Homo sapiens: one gene and its partner. The protein of the gene in region 2 interacts with the protein of the main gene of each other region in a pairwise test. Each region holds a gene or a part of one and is shown on either strand. Other genes may lie near its edges.

Region 1 (7,581 bases), on a different chromosome or scaffold from region 2:
CACACCCAGGGCCAACTGCTCTCCTTCCCACGAGGAAGTATCAGATCTCTACCCCACCTGCTCCGGGCCAGCGAGGTGCCCAACCCCAGGGGGTTCGCATTCCCTCTGAGGAGGTCCCCCTGGAGAAGTCTGGATGCAGGAGAGAGGGGACTGAGAATGGTGCCTACTAGGCCACAGAGGGTCCAGGGCTCCTGGGAGGATCTGCCGCCCAGGGGCCACCAGAGGGCGCCCGTTCCACGGAGCCCAGGCCCAGCCGACAAAGCAGGAGGGGACACTGGGCTTGGCTGCCCCAGGACTGCTGCGACCCGAGGGAGTCACCCTGTTTCCCTCAGCCCACGTGGCTCCCACACTGTCTTCTGTACCCTGGGTCCCGAAGGTTACTCCCCACTTCTGCAGCCATAGGGGGTGCAGGGAGAGAGGTTCCTGTCGGAGGGGCACCGACTGGAGAGGCAGTAATCCTGCCCAGTGCAGTCCTGGCCTTGCAAGTCTGGAGGAGGGTGGCACCCCGAGCCCTGGCAGCAGGCACTGGCCCATGGCTGGCACCGTGGTTAGACAGCTGCAGGGCGTTCGTACTCCCCACGCGGGGTGGACAGCATCCCCTGCCCCATCAGACACAGAGAAATCAACACAATCTGCCTGTCCTGGGTCCCTAACCCACTGCATTCCCCAACCCAAGAGCAGCACGACCCACACTCTCTGGCCCAGCCCCACATCAACTTCTCCATCTTGTCCTGCCCTCTCTTCTCACCCTTGGGAGATGGCCAAACTCTGCCACTCTGTCTCTCTAACTGGCAACAGTGGCCTGTGGATGCAAGGAAGGTTAGGTTGGCTCCTAAGGATGCAACTGCCCAGAGGACATGGAGGTGCTAAGAAGGGCTGGGGGCTAATGGTTTCCAAAGGAGCAGGGTTCAAGACTCTGGGCTGGGAGGGGCAGCCACTCAGCCACTCTGCTACCCTGGTGCCTGGGGAGGGATTCACCAGGAAGGCCAGGGATGCCTCTTTATGTGTGAGTAGAGGGGCAGAGAACGAACCCAACTGTGCCGAGGGCCTTGTGCTGCCTGGCATCCAGGTGTGCCCCCTACCTGGGACAGACAGAGCCCAGTGGGGTGAGGGGGGCAGCCTGGAAATGACAGGGTTGCCTCTGCAGAGGCACAGGAAGGCCTGTCCTGGGGACTTTGGAGGGGTCCTTGCAAGAACCTCAGGCTGGTGGGGAGGGCATCGGGAGATCCGCCAAGGGACTGTCTGCGGGTTCTGTTCCTTCTGTGGGGGGCGGTCAGGGGGCCCTTACAAGAACCTCAGGCTGGGGGCATCGGGAGATCCACCAAGGGCAAGGGGCTGTCTGTGGGTTCTGTTCCTCCTGGAGGGGCAGGGGTCCAGAGCCCGACTGCCTCCTCCCACCACTCCGCCCCCCGCGGCAAGGCATGGCCACAGACCCCCCTCACCCAGATGCACGGATCCTTCTTGCTCAGAATCCCCAGGACCATGGGCATTTCTGCGCTGAGTCCCCATCTGAGTAGCCCTCCACCCGCACTCCCACTCCCCTGGTTTCAGAGGAGCCCCCCAGAGCAGGAACCTAGTCTGTTTTGTTCTTGCCCACTGGGTCCCTGGCACGCGGTACAGACCGAGGTTGGTTCCCACACGTGGAAAGGTGAAGCTTGGGTTCCAAGAGTTCCTTAGCACACGGAGCCCACCGTTCCACCCACCCGTACACTTCTGTCCCCAAAGCTCCTCCGGGACCACAGGGAGGGAAGAGGCAGAGCCGCAGGCGGCTGCAGGGCTTAGGGGGCGCCAAGAGGGCCGCTGTTCTTACAAAGAAATGACACGGCCCCTGGGCGGGATCCAACGCGCCGACCACCTGCAGCTGGACTCGCGGCACGAGGCTGCCCAAGCGCCAGGCGGGGGCCGGCGCGTACAAGTTCTTCGACAGGAATCTCTACGAGGCGGCGGCGTTCCGCCCGCGGATAAGTGCCCAGCTCCCTCCCCACCCCTCCGCACTACCCCCCGAGGGGGTCAGCTTATAAAACCCACCTAGGCTGCCTTTGCTGGAGACCCTACGAGAATCCCCGGGCAGGACCGGAGACGCCTCCCAGAGAGGTCTGTACAGAGCAGAAGGGGTCCGCGGCCACCGTCAGCGGCGCCCCGAAAGCCCGGCCACGCCGAGCCCCACAGCGCCCCGACAGCCGGCCCCGGGGCTGGGACTCCCGGCCTGCAGGCGCGCTGGGCCGAGCGGCGGGCAGAAGACGCCCAGCTCCAGCCGTGGCCCGGGAGGAGCGCCCCGAGCCCGCAGCCCGGCGAGATCAGCTCCGCAGGGAAGAAGCCGGCGTGCGGGGGGCGGGGAGGGGCGGAGGACGACCGAGCGGGGCGGAGGAGACCCTGGCGAGGGAGTGCGGCGCGGGGCTTGGAGGCGAGGGCCGTGGGGTTGCAGAGGAGCCGCAGCGCAGGGAGCCATTCGGGGCCCGGGCGGCGGGGCGCAGGCGGCAGGATCCCGCGCCGGGGGCGAGTAGCCGCGTCGGGAAGACCAGGGTCCGGAGCCCAAAGCCCGGCCAGGCCCGGGTTCCCGGCGCCGCGCCCTCACTCACCCGAGATCTCCGCCTGGGGCACGTCGCTCAGGCTGAAGCCCTTGGCTCCGTAGATCTGGCGGACCTCGCCGCAGCTCCGGCTCTTGCTGGCCGGGTCCCCGCGGGCGCAGGCGACCAGCGCTGCGGCCGCACATAGCAGCCACCAGCCTCGGGCCCGGAGCTCCATGGCGGGGCCGGCGGCGCCCCCGGCCACCCGCCCGCGCCTCTCTCGGATCCTGGCCGGGTCCTGCGCAGTTCCCGCCCGCGAAGGGCAGAGCCAAGGTCCCGGCGCGCGCGGCTCGCGGTCCAGAGGCGGCGGCGGCCGAGGAGGCGGAGACAACAAAAGCCGGCGGCGGCGGCGGCGCGGGGCGCGCGGGGTGCGAGGTCCGAACGCTCGCTCGGGCAGCCCAGAGCGCGGCGGGCTAGCGCAGTCCCGGCTCGGCGCCTCCCCCGCCGCCGGCCCGGCCCCTAGGCGGCCGCGGGAGAGGAGAGGGGCGGGGCAGGGTGGGAGCGCAGGGGTGGGGGAGGGACTGGGAGCACCGGGCGGGGCGGGGCGGGGCGCGGCGCGGGGGCGCGGGCCGGGGCGCACTGGGCGCTCCTCTGGCTCTTAGGGACCCAGAGGGCCCGCCTGGCCGCGCGACTCTATCGATCCCCGGCGGGAGGCGGCGGAGCCGGGCAGCGCGGGGCCGCGGCCGGGGTCCCCGAGGGCGGCCCCCCACGCCCAGCGCCCAGGGCGGTGGCACCACCTGTGGGGGCGGGGACGGGGGCGGAGGGTGCGCGAGGCAGGGCTTCCCCCGCCGGACGTGACATCACGCCTCCCGCGCCCCAATCAGGGGCCTCCCCGCCCCCAGCCGAAATCGGCATCCCGCTCCCCGCTCCCTCCCGCGCGCTCCGGCTTCCTGCACCCTGGCAGCGCGCCCCGAGAACGCTCTCCCGGCGCCTCCGTACCCTCCGCCCGCCGGCCGCGCCTCGAGCCGCCGCCCCTCTCCCCGCCTGCACCCCGCAGCGGCTCCCTCCCCGCGCCCTTCCAGCCGTCTCGCGCTGGGCTCCGGCTCGCACCGGGGGCTTTTGTGGTGTGGGGGCTGCACGCAGGAAACTCGCCAAGAAACTCGACCTCACCTCTCCCAGTCCCAGGGAGCGGCAACAGATGGCTTAATTGTTGGACCTTGACAGCTGTTTTGGGGGGGTGACCCTCCACGTTCTTTGGATGCTGGAGAAACCAAAGTGATGGGGCAGGGCCGGTCTACTGGTTTGGGCTGCTGGGTGGGGCCAGATGACCTCTGGAGAAGGGATAGGGTTGGAACCCGGCGACTAGTTAGGCCACTGGGGGAGGAGGGTGGAGTGAGCCGGAGCAGATGCCTCTTTGAAGAAGGCGGGAGGGCTGCCTGCACCTTGTATGGTAGGAGGGCGCGTGGCTTTAGCTGCACATGGGGAGTTGGGCTGGATGGGGTCTGTAGGGAGGGGGCGAGGACTGCGATGTTGGTGTCTGGAGGGCTTCACTCCTTCCTTGGCTCCCAGACCCCCCACCCCGGCCCCCTGTTCTCCACATGGTAAGGCCTGGCGGTGAAGCCAGGTGCCTGAGCTGCAGAATTGGGGGCAGGCATAGAGGTCAGTATCCTTGGCAGAGAACCTCAAGATGACCCCCATGTACAGCAAGGGTGTCCTGATTTCAGGGCCTGTGGCATCACCTGGAAGCTGCAGCGGGGTCCGTGGTGGGGGTGGTGGCAACATTCCCTACCCCTTCTGTGCCTGGGGCTCTCAGCCGCTGTGTGGGGCTGGAGCAGGAAGGTGGGGTGCCCTCCCCCTGGGCTCTTGGGGTTTCCTGCCCTGCCTCCCAGAGAAGGTTGCTCCTTCACCCAGAGACACTGAGTCATTGCTGGAGAGGGAGGCTTTGGGGACCCAATCCAAGTGTGCATTTCCCTGCCCTCCCCCACATACCCTCTGCTGCGTCACATTTTGTGACTCACAGACCCCTGTTCAGTACATGCTCCAGGCTTGCTCCTTCTTGCCTGGGCCTGGCGTGGCTGCCTGCACACCTTATCCAGCACGGTCAGGAGCCTGGGCCCACGATCCCGCTCTCTCTCTGTGTGGTCTCACGCACTGCGGGATCAGGCAGGGCTGCCTGGGCCTAGGAAGCTGGACTTGAGGTTAACCCGGCCTGAGGCTCTATAGTTACCCCGTCACTGTCTACGCCTCCTCTTAATCTGACCAGGTTGGGTTATTCCTCCAGGCAAGTCCTTCCTCCAGCCTAGTTCTGGGCCTCTGGATGGCAGTGTGGACAGCAGGGCTTAGAACGCGATGGTGGCAGCCTCTGCCTGGCCCTGGTGACCCCTGGGTGGCTTCATCTCCTAAGGAAGTCCTTACCACCATCGCAGGTCCTGGAATCATTCCCATTCCGCAGGCCAGGAGACCTGTAGCCAGGGCCTTCCCTGGAGAGGATGCACATGCCGCCGGGGGCATTGGAAGCAAAAGCCGTGTTTGCACCTGGGAGGAGCCGCAGGATCCTGAGCAGCTGCAGCTACCCCTGCTTCCCTCCTGGCAATGCTGCACACGCCCGCTGTCACCAGGGCAGGAGCCGCCAGGCTGCCCGTGCTAGTCGGGTGCAGGGTCCAGACTGGGACTCTGGGAGGATGGGCAAGGCTGATCAGCCCCCTCTTCCACCGCTGTCCCTGGGGCCGCTCCACACAGGACACGTGGATGGGTTTGAGGACATAGTTGATGCCTCGAATCCCAGCCACCACAGTGACCCTTGTGGCTCTGACCAAGACCACCCCCTCCTGCTTTGGTGTCTTTGCCTGGCTAGACAGTGGGGGCACACGTATGCGACACAAAGAAGGAATGAATGAGCAAGTGAGGAAACACCTGAGAGGAAAAGTTTGTCCCTGAGAGTGGGCGTGTGGCGCAGCCTGGACCTGCTCTTCCACAGGTGCAGTGAGGGCAGAGGACACTTAGCATTGTCTGACGGGCTGAGGCAGGCAGTGCCTGTTGGGCCAGGGCGTGGGGGCCTCCCTTCCATGCCCCCATCTTCTGTGGAGGACCCCAGGTCCTGGAGGGCGTGTACTGCTGGCTTAGGGCCCACTCCTGCCTCTGCCTAGGGAGGGTGGGGGTCTGCGGGATGCTGAGCCTGGTCTCTGCTCAGAAGACACAGGGAGCGCCGGGGGGCCCGCAGCTCCCAGCCGTTCGGACGGCAGGTCTGCCCAGAAATTATCCTACTTTTGCTCCGTGGAACCCTCGTGAGTGTGCACGCCCTTGCCCGCTGCCATGGACGGACAGCTTCCCTTTCTGTTTGGTTTCAGGGATTGTCTTTCGGAGACTCCAAAAGTAAGTTTCCAAACAGACTGAGCGATTGTTGTCGCTGCCATCCATGGCTGCCTTCTTGTGAATGTCACTGCCTGTAGCATCCCTACCTACGAGAGCCCTGTCCTACTGGCCGTGGGAGGCAGGAGTGCGCGCGTGTGCCTGCAGACAGCAGGGGTTCAAGGGCGTGGACTAGGGCTGGCTGGGATGTGGCATCTGATCTGTTAGAGCACCCAGGAGGTGTTTTGGTGCCCTGGGGCATAGTGGAGGATGTAGGGTCCCCACACCTCTGTGGGGGTCTGGGGACCCCTTGGGCAGCAGCCTGAAGGAGGAAGTGGATACCCCAGCATGTGGCTGATGAAGGGAACATGGTCCCCAGGAGTGGCTGGCAGCCCTGGGCAGAGCAGGGTGGGCAGGACAGCCTGCCTGCAGAGCTGGAGATCTTTCTGCAAATGGTAATCAGGGTGCCTGCCAGAAAGAAGCGGGGCTCTGGGCAGCTCTACAGGGCTTAGCGATGGGGAGGGGATCTGCCCCAGGGCCTGCTCTGGCCCATGGACTCCACCTCCAGCTCACCCCGTGCTTCCTGCCCTGCCTTTTGGTGGTGACACTTGGGGAACATTCATCCGGTCTCTCATTCTGGTGCTGGCTCAGGGAGCCGCTGTCATCTCATGAAGGAGCTCGGCTCCAGACGACCCTGCAGGATTGTACTCGTGTGGGGTCTGTGAGGTGGGGTGCTGGTCCCTGCTCTGCCTGGACACTCAGTGGTACCCTGGAAGGTCTTCCAGCCCTGAGCCAGGACCCTAATCTACAGGAGTTCGGCTTTGAGTCTGAACCCTAGGGCTGCCCTGGCTTCCCCAACTTAGGGGCTGCCACTGGGCAGTGAGGGTGGGTGGACAAGGGCGCCAGCTGGGCAGAGTTTGCAGGACTGAGAAAACCTGGCACCATTATTCTCAAAGGAGGTCATACCTGCACCTCCCTCCACCTCTCTCCAAGCCCCTGCCGTGGGGCAGTCAACTTGAAGGTGAAGCTGTTTGGAGCCTGCTCTGCTCTGCTGGGTCCTTTTGATCAGCAGAAGTCTGGGCTGGCCTCCCTTATCCAGGTCAGAGGAGAGCAAGCCTTTTCAGTGAGGCTGGGTCACCCGTGTGGTAGGTGGGGTCAGAAGAATGCACCTGTGGCCCCTCCAAGAGCTGGCACCTGTTTCTCTAGTCTGAGGACCCTGGTAGCAAGAGATGACCCCAAACACTCCACTCTGGGCTGAGCTGGGTTTGGCCTTCCCTGTGGCTGTTTTCCTGCCCCTCCCCACCCTGACTCTTGGCCTGGTCTCCTTGAGGAGAGGGAGCAGATGGGGGCACTCCGGCACTGTCTGCTATGTTAGGACAAAGCACCCCACACACCTGGAGCTCAGAGACCCACGTGCACGCTTTGGTGTCCCCAGCACCAGCAGCTCATGGCTTTCCTGCCAGGTCCTGTCTGCTCTGTGTGTGGCTCCTGCCCTTCCCTCCACCTCTCCCCTTCTGGACCATTGCTGGCTTTTGACCTATTCCTCCTGCAGTCCATACTGCCTGGCTGATCATTTGAAAACCAGCTTCAATCCGAAGCCTGCAAGGACTCTGAAGATCAGAATGCAGCTGCCCTCAGCCACAGTGCAGGAGCCCCTGAGCCTCCCCCTCCTCTCAAGGGGTCCAGGAAGCTGAACGTTCTTCCCCTCCCCATTCAGATTCCAGGG
Region 2 (7,021 bases):
AGATGGTGCAAGGGATTCTGGAAGAAACATCTATCCAAATTTCTAGATAGAAGGGGAAGATGTAGCTAACAACTCTCCTCTCCTGCTTGCCATGTGTCACAGGTGTTCCACTCTAATGTTGTATAATGAAGGTGTGCATGAAACAACTATTAGGCCTTTGCTTAGTACGTACTTATCATTCTTGTCCTAATTCCTAGGAACAGGTCTCTGATGTCCTTTATTCACTATACAATTTTCCCTGACGAAACTTCCCTGTTTACCTTGTGAAGTCTTGATTAATTAATGGAAAATAATTAAATAAGTTTGGCTGGGGGCCATTGTTAGTAGCACAGGGCTTTCTTGAGTTCAAATATTGCATGTGCTGGGTAAATGACAGCAACCCTCAAAGACTCCAGTGTCATCAGGGCCTGATGATGGAATGAGTGTAGGGAGGGGAAACGTCCAGCACTAGCTACAGACCCAGTGCCACATGGCCCAAGTGGGCACCATGAACCTGGCAACCACAGTCCAGGCAGCTCTCAAAAGGCAGTGCTGTGTACACACACTTCAGTAGGACTAGAATAAGGCCTGCAGCTGGGGGAAGGTCCAGCCCATGTGCTTTCTCAACTCATGAGGGTCCAGTTGGGCCTCCCCAGGCCAGAGTTGTATGTAGAATCCACAGGAACACAGAATTCTGGTGCCTGCCCCAGAAATAGCCTGGAATGCCTGGGGGGTCTGCCTGTGAGGTCCTAATCATGGACCATGAACCAACCTAATTTATTGAGCCTCTCTTCAGCCAGTCAGTTACAAAGACATAATATCTCTCTGTGCCTCTTTCCCCAGCTCTATACAGGTTGATTATCCCTTATCTGAAATGCTTGGGACCAGAAGTGTTTCAGATTTCAGATTTTGGAAAGTTTAAATATGTATAATGAGATATCTTGGGGATGGGATCCAAATGTAAACATGAAATTCATCCCTGTTTCCTATATACCTTACACATATAGCCTGAAGGTAATTTTATACAATAGTTTAAATCATTTTGTGCATGAAACAAAGTTTTGACTGTGTTTTGAATGCTACCCATCACATGAATTCAGGTGTGAAATTTTCCACTTATGGCATCATGTTGGTGCTCAAAAAGTTTCAGATTTCAGCATTTGAGGTAACAAAACTTTTCCTCTATCTAACTGTAGGGTTGTGGAAAGGCAGAAAAGATGTATGTCATGAGATCTGTTCTTGGGGCTTATCAATGTAAGTTTGGAGACTCTTCAGAGGAGATGGGCTGAGACAGGCACTTGCTTGTGCACAGCAGCTGGGGCTGTGTGGGCTGTGGTGCCAGGGTAAAGGAGATAAGAAGGCTGGCTCAAGTGTCAGCCCTGGCCATCAGGAGCCACAGGGATTGAGATCACACCCAGATGAAATTAGGAATGGATTAGATTCCAAATTCCAAGAGCATGGAAGGCTCTTTCTACCTGGGTCTTTCTTTCTTCATTCTGTTACGCTTTCACCTAAGAAACAGTGACTACATCACTGGTTATGGTGAAAGTCAGATTTTGGCCTTATTCAAATTCTAATTCAATTTGGTTTTTGAACAATTTTGATGTAAGAAATGCCAGCTGGGCTGGGGAGCATTTCATTGGTTCATAACAGTCTCTTTGAGATATCAGACCTCTCACCAACAGGCAGCTGCTGACCTAGGAGGAGGCAGTCTCCCTTTGAAGACAGCAGCATGTAAGACTCTGATAATCATCAAAAAGTAGAAAATGAAACCTGTTTTCTCCTGTTAGACACTGCCAGAGTGTCTGGGAAGAGGGGATTTTGTGTCTGTCAGTCATGATCAAGCTTTCTTAGATGCCTGGTTGTGAGAATGTCCTAGAGAAGAGCTACTTTCCCAAAGGGCCTTATAGCTTTCAGAAGGGAGCCTGTAAAAGTGAGTTACTGCTGGAGGAGATGGAGATGTGTTGAGGGGAATGTGGCATAGGTTCTTGGGAATCAAATCTAATAGCAGGTGTCAGTGATGCCTGAGGCAGAGTGCCATCAAAGGGCCACTAAAAAATGGTTACAACGTCCTAAGTGGCCCCTGGGAAGGAGTGTCCTGGGCCCCACACCTCCTATGCTGTAATTGCAGGGCAAAGTCACTGCTCACACACAGCAGGCCCTGCAGGTACCTTTACCATTCGCTCAGCTTTTGAACAGTCACTTTCTTTACATTACTTTCTGTTCCTGTCCAAGTCTCCTGGCTCAGCACTATGATGTGTTTTTCTGTAGAAGAGGAACCATTCTTCCTCTAAGGGCTCTGTAATGTGGGAGTGATTGAGAGAGAGGACAGAGCAAGAAAGGCTGTGCTTTTTCATCTGGGTATGATCTCAAAAACTTGGAATCCAGAGATTTAGTATCTGCCATAGAGGAGAGAAATCTCTATGTAAAAATGACACAAGTGAAGTCTTAAATGACCAAATATCCATTTGAAGCCAACCCAGTATTTCTTCATCTGCGGGTTCTATAGTGTCAGAAAGAGAAATCCACAGACTAGACTGGCATTGGCCACATTAGGTGGCCTCAGAGCTGCCAAGAAAAGTCCTTCATGTGTCTGAAGTTGCTCCTGAGTCCTGGCTGGGTTGGGCCCTGGAAGCATGTGAGGGAGTAGATGGCTGGGGCATCTACCTAGTGAAGAGGGCTTTGGTGCTTGCATGGAAATGTGGGTATCTGAATGTGTCTGCATGTAGGATGTGTCTCTGTGTGGCATGTGAGTCTCTGTATGTGGTGTGTGTGTGCGTGTCTGGCATGTTTTGAGTTTAAGTGTGTCCTTCTCTGTGCTTCTGAGTGTGATATTCTGAGTGTGATGTACCTGTGTGTGTGTCTGTTCTTGTCAATCAGCTGTAAGAATGCCCTTAATTGCTTCTTCTAACTCTCAAGTTCTGTGAAAGATCTGCATGGCATGATAACCCGAGCCATCACTAAATATTATAGCTTCCTTCATTTCTCTTTGTGAAAATAGCATCTCTCCTGCTCCCAAGTGGAACACTCTGTCTCTTCAACTAATTATGATTGGGAACAGCAATATCTAAGTTCAGGAACAATCTCTGGACCCATGAAATGCCAGTCCATTGATTCTTCTCATATGAAGACTCTCTCCAAGCCATTGGCAGTCAAGTTAATGACTTAGAGAAATGTCAAACTAGGCAGGAAAGAGGCCAAAGTGGTCCAGGTCTGGGTGCAATCAGAGGGAATTTTGTATTAACAGCCAGATCCATAAGGTGTCATGGCGAGTAGGGGACAGAGCTTGGCCCTAACTGACAGGTTCTCCAAGACCTTTGTGGCTTTCACTGCCTGAAGGCAGCAGCACATGTGTGTTAGATCCCAAAGACTCCACTGCTTACTCCCACTGATCAAGCTGGTCAGAAGGCAACTTTCACAGCTTCATGAATGATCTATGATGAGGAAACTCAGGGTGTCTGTGCAGGTTTACATTTCCTGTGGTCTGGGAAGGTGTGATCGGGCAATGGGAGGAGGAAGCTTCCCTTTCTATGGGCCTGAATAGTCTTCCTCCTACCTCTGGATTACCTTAAAATACTTGTCTAGGATTTCACTGTAGTTGCTGCCTTTAGAGAACCAGCCATCTGGAATGATCTCAGCTTCCAGCCACTGGATGATGCGACGTCGGAGCTCATCACGGTTGGACTGATAGCAAACAACTGCAGGAAAGTGGAGGATGTCAGCTGGAGCAGTCAGGGGAGGACCCCAGTGATATCTGGCACCCACTGTGTGGGAGCATCCGTGCCCATGGTTCTGCATATGTCATCCCAGCAACACAGGGAGATAGGATTAGCACATCCAGGGTACACAACTGGAAAAAGTCTAGCCCAGGATTCAAGCACCCATCTCTAAAATATTTGTAAAGATTGAGAATATTGAAACAGAGAGATTTTGCTGCTTATGTGAGAAATAACTAGAGCAGAAAAATAATAAAGGATACTTTCATTAACTTTAGGAAGCTGAAGGGGAAAAAATCAATAAAGCAGCTCTCTTGACTCAAAGATGAGCTGAAATAATACATGAATAAATGAGAATATTACAGTTTTTATGCTACTAGATTTCTGATTTTCTCCAGTTTCTCCCTTTCTCACCAACTAGGTCCATCCAAACTTCCCCCCACTTACAACTGTATACCACCTGCATCATCCTTTATTATGAACAACAGAATGTGAAGGCCAGTGAGGGCTACGTCGAAGCCCTGCTCTGGACAGCTGTTGTCCACTGGAAATAACAGGGGGTGCTGAGAGTTGAGTGGATGGGGAAGCAGAGGAGAGAAAGCTTTGGCAAAAGAGAATTCCTGGAAGACAACACATGCTGTGGGTGAAAAGGGCACTGGGCCAGGGGAATGAAAATCTGGGAGTTCTTCCCCAGTCTGCCAATTACTAGCTGTGTGATATAGAAAACTCACTTAGCCTCTTTGAGCCTCAATTTCCTCATCTATATGGTAATTACAATAAGATCTACTTCACAAAGGCTACCGTGAGAATCTAAGGAAAGTATGTGCAAAAAAGCTCTGTAACTATAAATCATGATAAAATTTTAGTGATCACTAATAGAAAACCACAGAAGTCTTACTGGCATTTCCAGTTATCCCCTTTCAAAAAGAGTTGTGCCTTCTATTTGCTGGTCCCATGACACGAGCATGTCTTATAGGATGTTGAAAAATGAACTCAGTGGCTTTCCTGTTTATGCAGTTCAATCACTACTCAGGAAAAATGGGAAAACACAGCCAACATTCTGACCCAACCAGCTGCTTCAATTGGCAAACACATACACAAATGTAGTTTTGCAGCTTTTCTGAGCTGTGTTGAGGAGTGGCCAGTTCTGGGACACAATTCTGATGCATAGAAGATCTTATGAGCTTGGCAGGGATTGTGGAACACAAAATTTCTATCATGAAAAGAATGTCCTCCCTGAGATGCACACAGTAGAAAAAATAGGCACTCACCTGGGCTGGCAGATGGACTTACGGATTTCTTCTCTGCAAGACAAAAAGAGAAAACGTGTAATGCGAAGTGAAGGAAAAAAGAAAATTTTTCTGTATTTCTAGGATTACAGCTGCTCTACATGTAGGGGAATGTTTGTAACCTTTTCATCATTTTGTCTTGAATCCTTTCCCTTCCTTTCCTTCTTCTAGGGCCCAGGTATGAGGATCTTCTGTCTCCTGCTTTGTCTGACAATTTAGGGCCACTGAGTTACCCTTCTGGCCTCATACCTCCTCCTGTTGCATTGAGGGGTCACTGGGATTTTGAGAATTCAAATGGAGAATCATTCTGGACAGGGAATGGAGTGGAGACAATCACCTGGGAAACAGCTTCTTGTTTCTTCAAGGAAGGGCAAGGCTGAGAGGGGCTGGGCAGGGCTATGGCTTGGCAGGGGGCTGGTATCTAATTAGCAACAAGTGTGGGACTTCTTCCTTCTTATTCTAATGGCAGTGGTTTCAGTGCAAAATAGAGGAAACAATACTGAGAGGTGCCCAAATTAAAAAGCATGGGAAAAGTGAAACTTACCTACTTTCTAAAAAGGTACATAATTCATTTAAGGAACTTTCTTATTGTTACTGATTTACTGATGGGGTCCACCCTATCTACTATCCAGCTGCAGACAGTGCTGAAAACCCCCATGGGGATCTGATATAGCAAACCCTGGGCAGAGGCCTGGGCCATCCAGGGCAAACCCAGCAGGCTCATAAGTGACAAGAGGATGCAACTCCAACCAACTGGGCGCTTTCCACAGCTTTGAGAGGCTGTGGTCGTGGAGGAAAGACCATGTGGTCAGCCAGGCCACACTGCTCTGTTCCTTGGCTCCCCGTGGCTAAAGCTGCCTTGCAGTGGTGAGAGCACACCTTACCTTTGCAGTGTCCATCGTAATCAACCTGGATTTTGGATCCAGTGAGGCAGGCATCTCGATGCAGTTCACAGTGGTTGAGGTAGGTCTTGCCATTACTGCCACACACAGGCCTCTTGTGAGGTTTGCATTGCTGAAACAGACCCAAAAGAGAATGTTTGTGCAGTTATGGATATCGACACACAGACACACACACACACATACATGCACACACACACACAGAGCCATTTTGTAAGGGGACTCTCCACCACCAGAGATGGTGCTTCTACCCCATCAGGGCACAGGCAGTCACAGTTCTGGCCAACTGACCCTGTCTCAGTTGCCTATGGCCCTTCATGCCTATCCTGGTCCAGGGTCATCTCTTCTATTCAGTGAAGAAAGAGACACCCTCTATAGTTTCAATGTTTGTGATCCCTCCAAAATTCATGTTGATACTTAATCCACAATGCAAAAGTATTAAGAGGTGAGGCCTTTAGGAGGTGATTAGGTCATGAGGACTCCTCCCTTGTGGATGAGGTTAAGAAGTGAATAAAACAGTCTTCCTACAGCATTTGGCCCTTTGGCCCTTCTGCCTTCTGCCATGTGAGGATGCCACATGCAAGGTGCCATCTTGGAAGTTAGAGACCAGGCCCTCACCAGACATCAAATCTGCTTGCACCTCAATCTTGTACTTCCCAGCCTCCAGAACTGTGAGAATTAAATTCTTATTATTTATTAATTACCCAATCTCAGATATTTTGTTATAGCAGCCCAAACAAACAAAGACACCCCCCACATCAAATGAGCAGAAAGGGCGTTTTATTAAAAGCCAGAAATTTGAATTCTCTGTCACTTTGGAAAAAGTAATTTAATGTCTCAGAAGATCTAAGATCCCTTAATATTCCAACATTCAATGACACAAAACAGCCAGAGCTGAGAGCTGGGAATGTGGAGAGGCTGATAGGCAGGCAGGCAAACACACACACATGTGCGCGCGCGCGCGCGCGCGCACACACACACACACACACACACACACACACACACACTCCAATTCTTCTGCAGCCTAACTGTAAGGATCTCTTGCTGTATATACTATTGGGGGAACACTTTGTTTTCCTCCTGATCTCAAGCCTTTGTTGTGAAGCTAGGAGTAGGGTTGCCTGGGTCTTTGTGAAGT

What was found. Proteins that work in one complex are often made in the same cells at the same time.
Region 1: the proteins of FSTL1 (region 2) and GPC1 interact in a two-hybrid assay, tested with the Homo sapiens proteins (one study listed by IntAct).

Annotation. Positions count from the first base shown.
Region 1 is NC_000002.12:240,431,083-240,438,663, reverse strand, and holds the start of GPC1 (glypican-1 precursor), read right to left. Parts: upstream 3,002-7,581; 5' UTR 2,746-3,001; coding exon 2,580-2,745; intron 1-2,579. UniProt on the Homo sapiens protein: Cell surface proteoglycan that bears heparan sulfate. Binds, via the heparan sulfate side chains, alpha-4 (V) collagen and participates in Schwann cell myelination.
Region 2 is NC_000003.12:120,405,986-120,413,006, forward strand, and holds part of FSTL1 (follistatin-related protein 1 precursor), read right to left. Parts: intron 5,999-7,021; coding exon 5,869-5,998; intron 5,000-5,868; coding exon 4,967-4,999; intron 3,678-4,966; coding exon 3,547-3,677; intron 1-3,546.